4 separate regions of the Homo sapiens genome follow, and all the other regions are reported to be linked to region 1. Evidence: microRNA targets listed by miRTarBase, many of them from high-throughput screens and not tested one by one. Region 1 holds a microRNA gene; each other region holds the end of a gene's coding sequence.
The links. The annotated mature microRNA hsa-miR-4711-3p reads CGUGUCUUCUGGCUUGAU and lies in region 1 at 2,951-2,968, opposite strand. An mRNA with a match to its seed (bases 2 to 7 or 8) in the 3' UTR can be bound and repressed. Matches are read on the target gene's strand: a 7mer-m8 pairs with bases 2 to 8, a 7mer-A1 pairs with bases 2 to 7 and ends in A, and an 8mer does both.

Region 2: miRTarBase lists KIAA1671 as a target of hsa-miR-4711-3p. The part of its 3' UTR that is shown has no 7-base or 8-base seed match.
Region 3: the mRNA of AP4S1 is a reported target of hsa-miR-4711-3p. The part of its 3' UTR that is shown has no 7-base or 8-base seed match.
Region 4: miRTarBase lists ORC4 as a target of hsa-miR-4711-3p. Seed matches in the 3' UTR shown: 8mer at 2,770-2,777.

What each region holds. Positions count from the first base shown.
Region 1 is chr1:59,730,285-59,734,284 of GRCh38, forward strand. It overlaps MIR4711 (microRNA 4711), which reads right to left and starts at 3,012; the gene lies at 2,943-3,012. The region is part of intron 14 of FGGY (FGGY carbohydrate kinase domain containing); the gene reads left to right. RefSeq lists an enhancer at 633-927.
Region 2 is chr22:25,190,220-25,194,298 of GRCh38, forward strand. It overlaps KIAA1671, which reads left to right. Exons shown (of 13, transcript NM_001145206.2): 12 at 483-565; 13 at 2,187-4,079. The coding sequence ends at 561. Among named protein-coding and RNA genes, the nearest start is that of CRYBB3, 7.6 kb to the right of the region's middle.
Region 3 is chr14:31,092,289-31,096,367 of GRCh38, reverse strand. It overlaps AP4S1 (adaptor related protein complex 4 subunit sigma 1), which reads right to left. Exons shown (of 6, transcript NM_001128126.3): 6 at 1-3,461. The coding sequence ends at 3,333. Among named protein-coding and RNA genes, the nearest start is that of STRN3, 68 kb to the right of the region's middle.
Region 4 is chr2:147,931,772-147,935,850 of GRCh38, forward strand. It overlaps ORC4 (origin recognition complex subunit 4), which reads right to left. Exons shown (of 14, transcript NM_181741.4): 14 at 1-3,927. The coding sequence ends at 3,739. Among named protein-coding and RNA genes, the nearest start is that of ORC4, 87 kb to the right of the region's middle.

The sequences.
Region 1 (4,000 bases):
TCACTGATTTGCAGTTTCTTAGCTTTTTTTTTTTTTTTTGGAGTAAGGATGGGATAAATGACTTAGACAGTTTTTACATGTTGGAGCTATAACCACAAGTCTCTACATGTCTTTAATGTACTTGCTGACTTTCCCTACTGGAATGTAAGCTTATGAAAGCAGGGGCCATGTCTGTTTTATTCATAGCTACAGCTTCAGTAGCCAGAATAGCACCTGACTCAAAGTAAGCGGGCCAATAAATAGTTGCTAATAGACTAATTAATCTCTTGGCAGTCATTGAGCATATTGTTATACCAGGCACTGTGCTTAGTGTGGAAAGACATCAGGTGCCTACATTATTACAGTGGTGTGGGGGCAGGGCATGGTGGACATACAACTAAAATAACAATAAACCACAGATCAGAGAATAGGGAAGTTTTAAAGCACTGAGGACACATACCTCATCTAGCCCAAGCAAGAGGGAGGTAGAGGTAAAGCATTGCCAGAGAAGAAAACCATCACCTGAGTTGAGTTGTAAACAATGAGTAGCTGTTAGCCTGTATAGTGGAGAGGGACCCAGCCAAGGAGACAGCACAGACCTGTCAAAGTCCATGTCGGACAACATGCAAAGTGATTTACTTAACCCACCTCATGAACGTTTAGTAGCCCACGCAAGGCAGGCCCCTGTTAACTCACAGGTCAGGAAACTGAGCCTCAGACAGTTTAAGTGACTCGACAAAATGTCACCAATGCTGAGTGATGGAGCAAGTCGGCTTGAGGCCAAGGTCCATTTTCTCCCTGCTACAAAGATGACTAAGCACGACTCAGAGTCTGGTGGAGGAGCAGAACACATAAACAGTCTTTGATGATACCCATGCTCTTTTGAATTTGCTCTATTGTTGTTCATTTTCTTTAAGATTTCAGCCCTAGAAGTAGCAAGCTGAAAATCAGGGCTGCTTTGCAAATGCCCACAAACCACTGAGGGGAGTTTTGTCAAAGAAGGCGGGAAAGAAAAATAAATGTGGGCTTCTGCTCTTTAAACCTCAGCCCAGTGAGGCAGACTTTCCCGGAATACTTCAGGCCTCTTCAAAGGCCTATTGTGGAAAGTGTCCAGATGTGCGTGGAAAACCTCACTGGGAAGCTTCCCGGTGAAGAGGCCTTTTAAGCATGAACCGAGATGAAGGAAGCTGACGCCATGAGTCCTATCAGGTGGCCTTTTTTCTGAAGGAGCCCAGATTTTCCCCTAACCTTAAGAAGGTTGTAGGGGGTTGGGTGATTAGCCAGTTCGTATTCCTTTGATTACAGGAAGCAGTGGGGTTAGTTGTTTTTTGTTGTTGTCTTTCCTTTTTTTGCTGAAGTGAGAAGAGGAGATGGGGGTGGGGGGCATTCTCCATATGATTTATCTACCTGTAAGTTGTTAGTGACAGTCTGGTCATTCCTCCAGCATACCTTGTGAGGGCCAGGAGGGATTTCTGGATTGGATAAAGTTGAGGCACTGAGTAAGTCCTGCTAGTTTCTATGATGATGCCTCTGAGTGTTCTAAGAGTCAGAATCCCCTGGAATCTGGCTCTGATCCCCTGCTCCGAATCCCTGTTTAAGCTCTCTTCCCAATGCCCTGTTTATCCTAGGTTTGAGGCCCCATCTTCCTCTTGCTAGATACAGTTAAGCCAGAGAGACCCAGATTTAAATCCTGCTCTCTCATTAGCTGTGTCATCTTGCACAGAGTAGCATCAGCCTCACCGAGCCTCAGTTTCCTCATCTGTAAAATGGAGGTAATACCAGTCCCGTCATCATCCAGTTGCTGTGAGGATTAAATGAATTGCTGAGTTGCCGCACACAAAGCATCTGGTCCAGTTCCTGGCACAGAGTGAGGGTTCAGTTTATTTTCATTCCTTTTCTCTTTAATCCAGTTGTACAAAGAGGCAGAGCTGTCCCATTTGACCAGAGAATTTTACTTCTGTAGCTCTTTAAATTCTCTCCCCGCCATGTACATATGGGCTTAGCTAAGTATTTTGAGATCACAGTGTATTTAGGGGAAAGTCCTTTTGGCTACAGCTAAAATTAGGCCTCTCTTGTGCTCCTCTGTTTACCACCCCCCTTCCTATTTTAACTAATTAGAGGCATTGACACTAAGAAACACTTAAGAAAAGTTGGAAGAACAGCTGGGAGTTGTTCTAGATACAAGCAGCTGCTCCCTGTCAGCATGCAGGCACAGAAAAGGATGATCCTGAATGGGGAAGTGCAGGGAGGGCACCTCAGAGATGAAGATGAGGAATGGCAAAGTCTGTCTATGTTGTGGCAAACTGAGCAGGGTGGAGTTCTTATCACTCTGTCCTCTACCTTCTGCTGAGAGAAAAGGGGGGTCAGAGATACCAAAGCAGATAGAGGAAAGGGGGGCAAGAAAGGGGAAGGGAAGGAAGGTATTCAGGAGCTTAGCTAGTTGGTTAGTTGATTACTTTATGCAGACCACTGTCGCCCCCACCTAGACCACTGCGGTATCTCCTAACTGGTCTCATGCTGCCGGCTGCTTTCCTGCTGGAACCAGAGACGTCACAGGAACATGCAATTCTTGCACCCTGAAATCCCCGCGACGAGCTTCCACCATGGAATTTAGACAGAATTCCAAAACCCATCACATGGCCCCCGAGTACCTGGATGCACCTTCCCCCTGTTCCCCGTAATTGTTACTGCTCAGTCCTGCTGGCTTCTGTTCATTCGCTCTGCTTCAAAGGACTTTCTCTCCTGGAGCCAGATTGCCTGAGTTTAATCCAGGTTTCCCTACTCGCTACTACTACTTACAGGCCTCTCCATCTCCCTTCCAGCCTTAAACACCTACTGAGCTCCCCTGGAATTCCCTGTCCACGTCCTACACACTCTCCTCATGGAGTCCCCGGGCCTGTGCACCCCCAAATAAAAGTTTCTGTGTTTCCAGATGGCCATGGTGACTGTGCATAAAGCCTAGCAAATGTGCATCAAGCCAGAAGACACGAGACCTTTCCAAAGGGCTCATGTCTTCTGGCCTGATGCACATTTTTGTGTCCCCTGCCCCATCTCCTCCTCACTACCCTCGGGAAACTGGGTGATGTCTCTGTGGGAAGGGCTGAGCCTCAGGCTCTGTATTGATTGTCCAGTGCTGCATTTAAACTTCCTGACTGGATATTCAGAACTTATGCTGTTGTTTTGTTTTGTTTTGTTTTGTTTTTTTGTTTTGTTTTGTTTTTTAAAGCAAGCACCTTCACATCTCAGGTGTAAATGCCAGATCTTCTAACACTTACAAGGACAAATTCATTTCTTACTAAATAGTCAAGCTTAAAACCCACATGACTGGCTGATGTAAGCTTTGGCCTTGTCTGTGAGGAATTTTTGCAACATTATTTCTCTTGATTTCTTTCTTTGTTGCTGCTGTTCTCAGAACAAGGCAAGGCTGAGGTTCTCCTTCTCAGTTACTCCATGTCCCTGAATTAAGCCCTGTGAGATCTAAAAACAGGAGCTCTGTGCACACAGCCGTAAGGACAAACCCTCACTCTGCATCCCCCTAAGTGGGCCACATGCCTAAGCCCAGAAATCTAAGAGTTACTTCTAACAACTTTCTCTCCCTAACACCCTCATCTGGTCTGTCACTGAAGCATGTTTTCTGCCTCCTGAGCATCTCTCATATCTGGGTGATAAGAGAGCCACCTTGATGTCCCCTGGCCCTTGCTGACCTCAGCAGAGCCTTTGGGTGACAGTAGCTCTGGCTTCCCAGGGCCCTTGGAAAGGAGACTGTGGGGTCCGCGTGGTATGGCCCTGCCTGCCTCTTGGTTCTGTTTCACCCACACTTCCCTTCACTCTTATCTGCTCCAACAACACAGCCTTTCTCATTCCTCAAGTATCAGTTTTCTTTTCTTTTTCTTTTTATTTATTTCAGTAGGGTTTTGGGGAACAGGTGTTGTATGGTTACATGAATAAGTTCTTTTCTGAGACAGGGTCTTGCTCTGGTGACCAGACTGGAGTGCAGTGGTACCATAACAGCTCACTGCAG
Region 2 (4,079 bases), not on the chromosome of region 1:
CAGATCATCAGGCATTAGATTCTCATGAGAAGCTCGCAACCTAGATCCCTTGCATGCACAGTTCACAATAGGGTTCACACTCCTATGAGAATCTAATGCTGCCGCTGCTCTGACAGGACGCAGAGATCAGGTGGAATGTGAGTGATGGAGCAGCTGTGAATACAGATGAAGCTTCGCTCACTCGCCCACCACTCACCACCTGCTGTGTGGCCTTGTTCCTAACAGGCCATGGACCAGTATCGGTCTGTGGCCCAGGGGGTTGGGGACCCCTGATTTATTTAATATTCCCCATTGTTGGACACTGTGGTTAATTTCTACTTCTTGCTTATCAGTCCCGTTAATATGGGCATCTTTACCACCTCTGAGTGCTTGCCCCAACCCCGCCTGGGCCCAGGGATAGACAGTCGGATACCACTCAGTCCTGCCCGCAAGGAGCCCACAGTCTGGTTTCAACTAGTCTCTTACTGGCTTTGTGGTTTCAGGTCGGATGAACCCTCTCCCCAGTGGCTAAAGGAATTGAAATCCAAGAAGAGGCAAAGTCTTTATGAGAACCAAGTTTGACCAGGTATGAAGGGGCTCTGTTGGGGAACCTGGGAAGAGCCCTGCAGTCACAGGAATGGGGAACTCAGGGGGGCCACGCTTCAGAGACTGGGGCTGTTGTACCCAAGGAAAGAGGCTGTGTAAGGGGAAGAATGAGGGGTGGGGGGTGTTCTGAGTTCCTGTAAAGAGGATGGTTATGTCTGTTTCCATTTAGGGAGAAAACAAAGCTGGGCTGCCTGGAGTGGGTGAAAGGTACCAGGCCAGGAGGCAGGTGACTGGGGCTCTGGTCTCATGCACTTGGCTGACCCTTCTAGCTGCATCACAGTCCCCTCTGATAAAACAAAAGGGCGGGGACATCAGAGGTTAGCTTAATTAGAAATGGTTACTTTTTTTTTTTTTTTTTTTTGAGACAGAGTTTCGCCCTTGTCACCAAGGCTGGAGTGCAATGATGCAATCTCGGATCTTGGCTCATTGCGGCCTCTGCCTCCCGGGTTCAAACGATTCTCCTGCCTCAGCCTCCTAAGTAGCTGGAATTACAGGTGCCTGCCACCATGCCCAGCTGATTTTTATATTTTTTGTAGAGATGGAGTTTCACCATGTTGGACAGGCTGGTCTCGAACTCCTGACCTCAGGTGATCCATTCACCTCTGGCTCCCAAAGTGCTGGGATTATAGGCGTGAGCCACTGTGCCCGGCCAGAAATGGTTACAGTTTTTATAGGGGGAGTGTTTCATATACAACCTATGTAGTTAAAAATGAATTTGAAAAAATATACATTAAAAATTACGATTAGATAGGCCCTGGTGTAAGTTGCAAATGACTGAACATCATGAACTTAAGTTTCCTCATCTGTAAAATGGGTTAGCAGTGTCCACACCACCGAGTTGTCCTCAGGGCTCACTGAGAATGCACCTGTGGTGCTTGACTGAGTGCTGCCTGTTTCTCCTCAGTATAGGAGCTCATGGTACGTGCACCATCAAAGTCAGCGTTGATGTGATGAGCACAAGAGACTCACCATCCCTTATCCACAAAGCCAAATTCCAGAAAGCCCTGCAAAACAAAGCTTTTTCCTAAGTCAGTGGTAAAACCTGACCTGAGTGAATATAATTCTACTTTGACTCTATTTTCCCCACTTTATATGAATGTTCATAATACACTGCAGGAATATTATCTGCTTGATTATGGTGGTGTTACATATGTATATATATACATATGTGTATATATTACATGATTATGTATGATGCATGTGTGTATGTATAATAAATACTAAAAATTATAAATTCCCAAATAAAACTATGCTCAAGGGATTTGGATAAGGGATCGGGACCTGTGTTTATTTTGTGTTTGGTGCAGTACATGTAATATCTCATTTAAGCCTCCAGCAACCCCTTTGAGGAAACTGAGGCTCAGAATTGAGACTGGAACCCTGACCTGACCCTAAATTTCATGTTGGTTTCACTGTATTCCATGCCTGCCACCCTCCTCACCTCCCCTTTCCACCCAACACAAAAAATCTCTTTTGTGACCTTAGGCTTCTAGGGGTGACTTCATTGGAGAATATCAGGTGAGATTTTAAGGACTGAGGGTAGAGAGCAATGGAGCCAAATGTTCCCACTGCTGACACCAGTACTGTCCCTTCCTCTCCAGGCAGGGAACACTGCCACATCTACGTAACAGAAGCCTTAACCATCAGAACCCGCAGACGAGGCCGAGCTGCTGCCGTTTCTTCCTGCACAACGCTTACGTGCCTGGGCCCTTCCCATTGGATTGAGAACGCTATCCAGTGCCCCTGTCCTCGCCAGGCTCTCCCTGGATCCAGACGGGAAGACCCAACCTCCAGGAGCACTCGCTCATCTCCCCAGACAGCACTTCAGGCTGGGAAAGGAGCCAGGCTGCCCAGAAACGTCCATGTGGGTGGTTTTGCTTTTTATGTAAAAATTTGCATTTCTACCTATTTTAGACACCTTCATCAGCTCCAAGAACATCAGTGTGAGGCTGGAATTGTCTCCCCAGGTTCTGAAAAACACCTGCATTTGTGAAAGCACCTCCTCACCCGACCCCGGGGCAGGTCTTTTTTTGGAAGGACATTTCCAAGGAAGATCAAACTGTTCATTTTCTGCTGTAGTCTCGGTGCAGGGTATTACCGCTGGGTTGAGGTTTTCTATTCTTTTTTTTTGGTGAGTTCCTTCTTCCCCTTGAGGAATCAGCAGTTCCAATTTTTAAACATACTCTCCCTGATTATGTGTATTTCTCTTTCTAGTGGGGCTGTGTGCATCGTTGGCCTATGTTATTGTATGTCATTTTTGTTTGCTTTAGAAGGCGATAAAGCAATAATTCAGCTAATTTTCTTTGAAACTTGATAGGTATATATGTGTTTACGTTAAAGGACAGGAGGAAAGATGTGCGAATAATTTGTTCTGAAGTATCCAGTCACCTCAGGTTATCTTATCCCTATCCAAGCTGTTTAGAAGTTATAATTGTCACTCTTGTATTTATTTCCATGGCTTCTTTTCATTTGAGCTCTGGTTTCGGTAGGGTGACCTTTGCCCCTTGGCCTTAAGGGTTCATAAACTGCAGCCCAAGTGGTGGTGCCTTTGCTTATGAATCATCAGACCTGCCCTAGTAATCTTTTTCTCCAGAGTCTTCTTTGAACATGACGTGGGCTGCTGGCATGGAGGAGTTGTTCCAAACTGGCCTCAGAACAGATGCATGAATGAAGGGTACTTTTTGCTTTTGCTCACCTCATTTTCCTTCATCTTTCTTGATGAATCCATTATTTGCAAATGCTGTCAAAACATGCTTTCCTTCTCCCTGGCTACCTCTCAGGAGTTCATTTGTCTCTCTGTCTCAGCTTCCTCCCTCATCTTCCTTTACCCCTCTTCTCTGTCTTAGTGGGTGGATGGGCATGGATAGAAATCCTCTGTTTCTTTAGGTTAGGATAAACACCTGGGCCCTGGTGAGGCAGTTGCTGTTCAGCACCAGGGACAGCAACTGCAGGGCTGTGAGGCCGGAGCCCACCTTGTGTCCTGTTCGATGAGCTTTGGTTACTGATGAGCAATTGCCAGATCATGTCACCCACCCAGCCTTTTACACCTGGGAGCCTCATGCATCTGGGTTTGGGAGTTTGGCCCTGCTGATGATAGTTTGTTTTCTCTTCATTCCCTGAATTAGTCATCAGTTCTCCGTGGCCATTTGGGGATTCATGCCTGCAACTGCTTCAGTCGAATTCTTTTTTAAAGATCCAGTTTATGTTTTATAATAATTTTGATCTTATGGCTTTCAACGTCAATAGGATCCCCTTTAAAAATACCCTGCTAGTGTTTTGTTTTGTTTTGTTTTTCTGAGACAAGGTCTTACTCTGTTGCTCAAGCTGGAGTGGAGTGGCACGATCATAGCTCACTAACACCTGGGCTCAAGTGATTCTCCCACCTCAGCCTCCCAAGTAGCTGGGACTACAGGTGTATGCTACCATGACCAGCTAATTTTTAAATATTTTTGTAGAGACAAGGGTCTTACCATGTTGCCCAGGCTGGTCTCGAA
Region 3 (4,079 bases), not on the chromosome of region 1:
ACCACAGAATGCGAAACAGTGGATAAGAGAGGGACTACTGTACATACTTTCGCCTAAGACAGTTCTGTATATTCTTCTGTTAACGGGGTAGCAAAAGCATATAGAAAGGTTTTGGGGGGATGCAGTGCATTGCTCTTCTGTAATGACAGTAATTTACTTCAAGACATTGCAGGAGAAGGGGTTAAAGGAGTAAAGGGGAGGAAGAGAAGGATTCATTTCATGCCTACCTGTACAGAGACACTTTCTTGCTTTCTACTTTTTTTTTTTTTTTTTTTTTTGAGACGGAATCTCACTCTGTGCCCAGGCTGGAGTGCAGTGGCACAATCTCGATCTCAACTCACTGCAACCTCTGTCTCCTGGGTTCAAGTGATCCTCCTACCACAGCCTCCCAAGTAGTTGGGATTATAGGCGCGTGCCACCATGCCCGGCTAATTTTTCGTAGTTTTAGTAGAGACAGGGTCTCACCATGTTGGCCAAGCTGGTCTTGAACTCCTGACCTCAAATGATCTACCCACCTTGGCGTCCCAAAGTGCTGGGATTATAGGCGTAAGCCACCATGCCTGGCTGCATTCTACTTTTAAACTTTGAACTAAATTTCATTAACAGTAAGCTTATTAATAAGCAAACCTTTTAAAATGTGGCATAAAAAGACTGGGCACAGTGGCTCAGGCCTGTAATCCCAACACTTTGGAAGGCGAAGGCAGATGGATCATGTGACTGCAGGAATTCGAGACCAGTCTGGGCAACATAGTGAAACCCTATCTCTACAACAAAATACAAAAATTAGCTGGGTGGAGGGGGTGCGCACCTGTGGTCCCAGTTACTCAGGAGGCTGAGGTGGGAGGAGCACCTGAGCCCAGGAGGTACAGGCTGTAGTGAGGCATGATCACACCACTGCACTCCAGCCTAGGAGACGGAGATGCTGTCTCCAAAAAACAAACAAAAAACGGGATAAAGGATAGCTGTAGGGGCTCTCTGGGGCTGTCTTAATGTCTGACCATCCATTATTTGAAAGTAATGTTCTCTATAGAGTTAATTACATAATGGCATTGTAATTACTAAGTGCCCTTAAAATGAGTATCAAAGGCTTTTACAAACTGGCAAATAAAATTTAACTCTGCATCTTTGTTAGGTACATGTTATAAAAGTTTTTTTGTTTTGTTTTTGTGTTTTTGAGGCAGGGCCTCACTCCATTACCCAGGTTGGAGTACAGTGTTGTGATCATAGTTCACTGCAGCCTCAAACTCCTAGGCTTGATCAATTCTCCCATCTCAGCCTCTTGAGTAGTTAGGAGTACAGGTGCTCACCACCACAGCTGGCTAACTTTTTAATTAGTTATTTACTTATTTTTAGAGACAGGGTCTCACTCTGTCGCCCAGGCTGGAGTGCAGTGGCATGATCTCGGCTCACTGCAACCTCTGCCTCCCGGGTTCAAGCAATTCTACTGCCTCAGCCTCCTGAGTAGCTGAGATTAGAGGTGCTTGCCACCATGCCTGGCTAACTTTTTGTATTTTTAGTAGAGACAAGGTTTTGCCATGTTGGCCAGGCTGGTTTCAAACTCCTGACCTCAAGTGATCTGCCTGCCTCGGCCTCCCAAAGTACTAGGATTACAGGCATGAGCCATCACACCTATTTATTTTTTGTAGAGATATGGTCTTGCTGTGTTGCCCAGGCTGGTCTTGAACTAATGGGCTCAACCAATCCTCCTGGCTTGGCCCCCCAAAATGTTGGGATTACAGGCCTGAGCCACCGCACTCGGACTTTTTTATTTTTGAGACAGGGTTTCACTCTGTCACCCAGGCTGGAGTGCAGTGACACGATCATAGCTCACTGCAGACTCGAACTCCTGGGCTCAAGAAATCTTCTGCCTCAGACTCCCGAGTAGTTGAGACTACAGGTATGTGCCACCACACCCGGCTGATTTTTGCATTTTTTGTAGAGATGAGGTCTATGTTGCCCAGGCTGGTCTTGAATTTCTGGCCTCAAGCGATCCTCCTTCCTCAGCCTCCCAAAGTGCAGGGGTTACAGGTGTGAGGCACTGCACCAGCCCCACATTACAAAGCTTTTAGAGCCAGGCCAGGAAGGTTCAAGGTTGTAGTACAACATGATCATGCTTGTGAAAAGCCACTGCAGTCCAGCCTGGACAACACAGCAAGACCTGCTTCTCTTAAAAACAAACAAACAAAAAACACCTCTTGGCTGGGCATGGTGGCTCATGCTTGTAATCCCAGCACTTTGGGAGGCTGAAGCAGGTGGATCACTTGAGGTCAGGAGTTCAAGAACAGCCTGGCCAACATGGTGAAACCCTATCTCTACTAAAAATACAAAAATTAGCTGGGCTTTACATAAAACCGGGCAGGGCATGGTGGCTCACATCTGTAATCACAGCTCAGTCTCCTGGGGACTACATGCCTGTAGTCGCAGCTACTCAGGAGGCTGAGGCAGGAGAATTGCTTAAACCCAGAGGTGGAGGTTGCAGTGAGCTGAGATCACACCACTGCACTCCAGCTTGGGTGACAGAGCAAGACTCCGTCTTAAAAAACAAAACAAAAAAACAAACAAAAAAACACCTCTTAAAAAGTTAATTTTACTAAGCCTTTTAAAGGAATAAGACAGCCTTCAGAAGTCAGGCACTGTGGCTCATCTGTAATCCCAGCGTTCTGGGAGGCTGAGGCAGGCAGATCACCTGAGGTCAGGAGTTTGAGACAGCCTGGCCAACATGGTGAAACCCTGTCTCTACTAAAAATACAAAAATTAGCCAGGTGTGGTGGTGCATGCCTGTAGTCCCAGCTCGGAGGCTGAGGCAGGAGAATCGCTTGAACCCCGGAAGTGGAGGTTGCAGTGAGCCGAGAATGTGCCAGGTGACACAGCTAGACTAGACTCCGTCTCAAAAAAAAAAAAATAGCTTTCAGAAAACAGCGTTACTCAAAATGCCTTGTGTTTAAATTTTAAAACTTTATTGGCTGACGGAAAACTGCCATACTTTCTTCCCACTACCATCCTGCTATTCCTGAATTCAATTTGCAAAAGAAGCATAGACCAAGAAGGGTTCCTTAGGTGCTCAACAGAATTTAAAGTGCGACAGATATGTTTACAATTAGAAAATAAAACTTCTCTCTCAGTTTAAAGAAATTTTTTTCTTTGTACATATTTTAAAGTACAGTTGTGTTTTCTTTTTAGGAACTGTGGAAAATGCCTATTTATAATGTCTTTGGAAGGATACCCCATTTTGTAATTGTGGTCTTCCAGATTCTTCTGGGTTAACATGTTGAGATGTATTCCACGGTACTCGCATTTCTGATAAATCCATATTGTCTCGAAGAGACTTCCTTTCAGCTTTCTGACATCTTATCAAGAATTAGTAGAGGGGCAAGAATTCTTGCCCTGTTAGTTTCCACAATGCAGCCATTTAACACCATCTCATCCAAAATGATGTGTACTTTATCCAAATTAAACATTATCTACGGTTATATTAAGGAAATTAGTTTAAAGTTAAAAATTATTAACATTCAGTAAAAATTTATGGCTTAACCTAGAGTGTTCCCAGTGTAAATTAGCCTAAGCATGAGGTTTTTTGTACAAAATTTCTGAAATTAAATTTAAAACTGGCATCCATATTAGAAATTGTTACCTTCATATATACATACCTAGTTTCACCTTGGTTAAGCTAACAGGATAAGTAGGGATAAAAATGAAACAGCTACATTTTTTAACCAAAGGGATAGGGGGTCTACTAAGTGCTAGAGAACACAGCAGTGTCATGTGGCAAGAGAATGACCTTAACTCAAAAATAGTGTTGTCTTCCCAGACAATAATAGTAACAGTAGCAACGATTTGTTGAATACTCCCGTTCCAGACAGTGTGTTGAGTTTCAGCCCTCTACAAATCTCTGATGTATGTTGTTACATATTATCCTCAGTTTACCCAGGATCAAACAGGTTCAAAGCATAGTCCAAGGTCACATGGCTAGTAAATGCCAGGTTTGAATTTAAACCCAAAGCTTGGGCTTGACTGCTCTGCTTATAGGCTCCTCAGGAGGGGCTAGACACCTCCCTCCTCAGCCCCCAAACCTCCACCCC
Region 4 (4,079 bases), not on the chromosome of region 1:
ACTCTCAATAAATTAGGGATTGATGGGGTGTATTTCAAAATAATAAGAGCTATCTATGACAAACCCACAGCCAATATCATACTGAATGGGCAAAAACTGGAAGCATTCCCTTTGAAAACTGGCACAAGACAGGGATGCCCTCTCTCACCACTCGTATTCAACATAGTGTTGGAAGTTCTGGCCAGGGCAATTAGGCAGGAGAAGGAAATAAAGGGTATTCAATTAGGAAAAGAGGAAGTCAAATTGTCCGTTTGCAGACGACATGATTGTATATCTAGAAAACCCCATCGTCTCAGCCCAAAATCTCCTTAAGCTGATAAGCAACTTCAGCAAAGTCTCAGGATACAAAATCAATGTACAAAAATCACAAGCATTCTTATACACCAACAACAGACAAACAGAGAGCCAAATCATGAGTGAACTCCCATTCACAATTGCTTCAAAGAGAATAAAATACCTAGGAATCCAACTTACAAGGGATGTGAAGGACCTCTTCAAGGAGAACTACAAGCTACTGCTCAAGGAAATAAAAGAGGATACAAACAAATGGAAGAACATTCCATGCTCTTGGGTAGGAAGAATCAATATTGTGAAAATGGCCATACTGCCCAAGGTAATTTACAGATTCAATGCCATCCCCATCAAGCTACCAATGACTTTCTTCACAGAATTGGAAAAAACTACTTAAGTTCATATGGAACCAAAAAAGAGCCCACATCGCCAAGGCAATCCTAAGCTATGTGTTCTTAAAGAGGGGAGTGGTAGCTTTGTAACTTACAGTGAGGCTTACACCTTGACAACTGCAAGAATGAGGATAGTGGTGAGTGAAGGGAGATTTGTTAATTATGGCATTTCCCTCTATTATCGTCTAAACAGATTATATTCCCACTAAAGTATGTGTGTTGGTCCTGCCAGTATTAGAAACCAGAGGCTTGTTGGCATTGTGTCACACAGTACACACCAATGGATTCTCAGATTTTCTAGGGTAAAGGTGAAGGATGGGGCAGCACTTAGGTTATGGTGGTTTGAAAGAAACTGAATTGCTTTCTAAACCAGATGAGGATCAGAGTGCGAACCATGGTGAAATATGCATGGAAACTACAGAAAGACTGAAGTGTTTCTTACGGTGTTTTCTGCAAAACGTGATTCATTAGGACATTAACAGGTATTACGTTTTCAACATATACAGCATTATGATACAGTAAGTTTGGACCAAACAGGTATTCATTCCCCAGAGCCTTTCACATGCACGAGAATCAGTCATTTTAACAAGAATTCCGTTTCTGCTGGGCCACTTGGATCCCTTGGATTCAGATGTAAAAACACACTGAAATATTCCTCCTTTCACCTGCTTTTCAGTTTGAGGTAATCAGATTGAAAAGCAGGAGTTCATGCATTTTTTGGTTCTATTTTTCCTCCTCTAGTAAATGAAGAAAATAAGCTATATGTATAAGTTTACATTATTCTTGAACCGCTTTTTAAACTAGGGTTTTTCATATTTGTTTTTATTGATGACAATTAAAGCAATTTAAGAGACGAAGTTAGCTCAAAACTCTTGCGAATAGATTTTAGCATTTTTGTATGAGGGAATATGGAAAGGCCAACAAGCAGCACTGTTCCTCCCCACAAAAATGCCTTGGGAATATAATAGGCGTACACTTCATTTGTGTAACTTTTCCTAATGTATTTTTTTTTAATTTGCTTTATAACGGTTTCATGTTTACCTCAATTGGTACTTAGTCTTAAAATCTTTCTTTATACTTGGTTATTGATGGATCTTCTGCAGCTCTTATGTAGCCAATGAGACAGATGAGGGCTGTCAGCTTTTAAGTGACATCTTAAGCTAATAAGAAATTGGAATCCTCAAGTCATTTCATGAGGCTGTTACCCTTTAAGACAAATAATACTTTCCTCAAATAGTTCAGAAAATTTTTAAAAGGATCACTTAGAGCATAAGTGTAAAATTCTTGCTTCTAGTATATAATAGTGATGTTACCATGTCAAGTATTTTGGTGAAATATCCCCTAAAAATGTGTAGACTACGGCACAGATTGAGTATGCAAGCCTTAGCTTGAATGAGACTGCTGAGAAGTAAATGACAGGGATCTGAATACTTAGCAGGCTTAACTTTTTGCAGGGAAGGAAAGGCTATGTATGCAAAAGAATAGGTTGTAACTACTGAAGAGCTACTTTATGCTCAGAAACCTTTTATTCCACTTTGTATCCAAGATTTCATTAAAACATTGTTCCTTAGAGCATACTTTAAAAACTATTTGGTAAGGAATCCACTGTTGAACTTCAGGTCTTAATAGCACTGGCTTTGGTGCTAAACTGAGTTGAATTCCAAGCCTGTTGGCCATTCCCAGCATTGCCACTGCTGTGTTAGTTTTCTCATCTGTAAATAACTGCCTACATCTCACAGGGCCTCTAATAGTTAAATAGATTGTAAGCTGCACAAGCATAGGGACAGTCTGTCTTTTGTAAACCTCCCATGCACACAATAGGAAATCAAATATTCTTGAACAAATGAAGTCACTAAGTGCTCATTAAATTTCATTTTAAATATATGCCTCTGTTAATTCATGGATCTTGGAACTTACTTAAAAGACAATGCTTTGACGGACATTTCCACATTCCTCATAGGGATTTACTTTTTAATACAAACAGGTTCAGTTAACATTGCCATACACATCTCATTACTTTTGGGAGTGCTTTTCCAGAAATCTCTGGTAGTCACGTCACTTCATGATGGGGCTACGTTCTGAGAAATGTGTCTTTGGGTGATTTCATCACTGTATGAACATCACAGAGTATACTTACACAGACCCTGATGATATGTATATAGCCTGTTACACACTTAGGCTATACAGATAGCCTAGCCTATTACTCTTCAGCTATAGCACTGTACAGAATGTTACTGTAATCATACTGTAGGCAACTGTAACACAATGGTAAAACATTTGTATATTTAGACATAGAAAAGGTACAGTAAAAATATGGTATAATCTTATGAGACCACCCTTTATACAATGTCATTGACCAAAATGTTACGTGGTGCCATGACTATACTTGTTAAGAAGGAAAATTCCAGTCCTTTTGACCTATGGTAGGCTCAACAATCTGTAATTTTAGAAAATCCTACAAGGGATTCTGATGTGGATGGTATGAGTACCACATTTTGAGATGTCTAGAAGAAAAATCTTCAAACTCCTTGGCCTTTTTCTTCCATGGAACCATCTTCTGACTAAGCTGGTTAGTCTTCTGAACTAGAAAACCTGGGTCTGGGATAGAATCCAAAATTTGCATGTGGACAGAAAAAAACACTGCAGCAAACCTGCTGTACCAAAGGTTACTTATTATACTTCAGTGCTTACCATTGTTTTTTTTACTCCTTTGGTTTAAGGTTTGTAAAGACATCTAGCTGTTAGGTTGAAGTGAGCTCTTCAAATAGACCATTATATATATAAGTGTTAAAAAAGCACATGGTCTAGTCCCTAAAACAGTCATATTTTATTCTTCTGAACAGCTACTTACAAAGTAATCTCAATCAGTGAAATTATAAATCATGTAACTGTTCATGATTAAAAGGCAAGACACAGCCAAGACAGTAGATGGGCAAGTCTCACATAAATACAAGAATGTTTATAGAATGTTTAGCATATCATGTTAATGGACAATAGTTTTCCGTTCTCTACAGAAGTATGAATGAAATGCCAAAGTTGAAGTCACTGGTTATATTCATAACCAGCTTAGTGAGGATGTTGCCCACTGCCTCACATCTGTAGGACAGTTGGGATATTTCTGCAGAGCATTCATAATTTGAGTATTATCCAAAAGCAGTTTCATCAGCTGGTACTCTCTCTGTGAATTTCCTGAAGTTCTTTCCATGGGCTTTATTAATTCTAATTGCTGCAAGTGTTCAAAAGCCTGAAAGATGAAAGAAATAGTTTAGGTTGAATAGGAGAGGAGAGTGACAACTCTCCTGTTCTCTCCCAGAGAACAGTTAGCATTTTGGTCAGCTGCAGAACAGAGTACTGGGAAGCAAAATGTAACAACAATCAATAGGATTAAAAAAACTC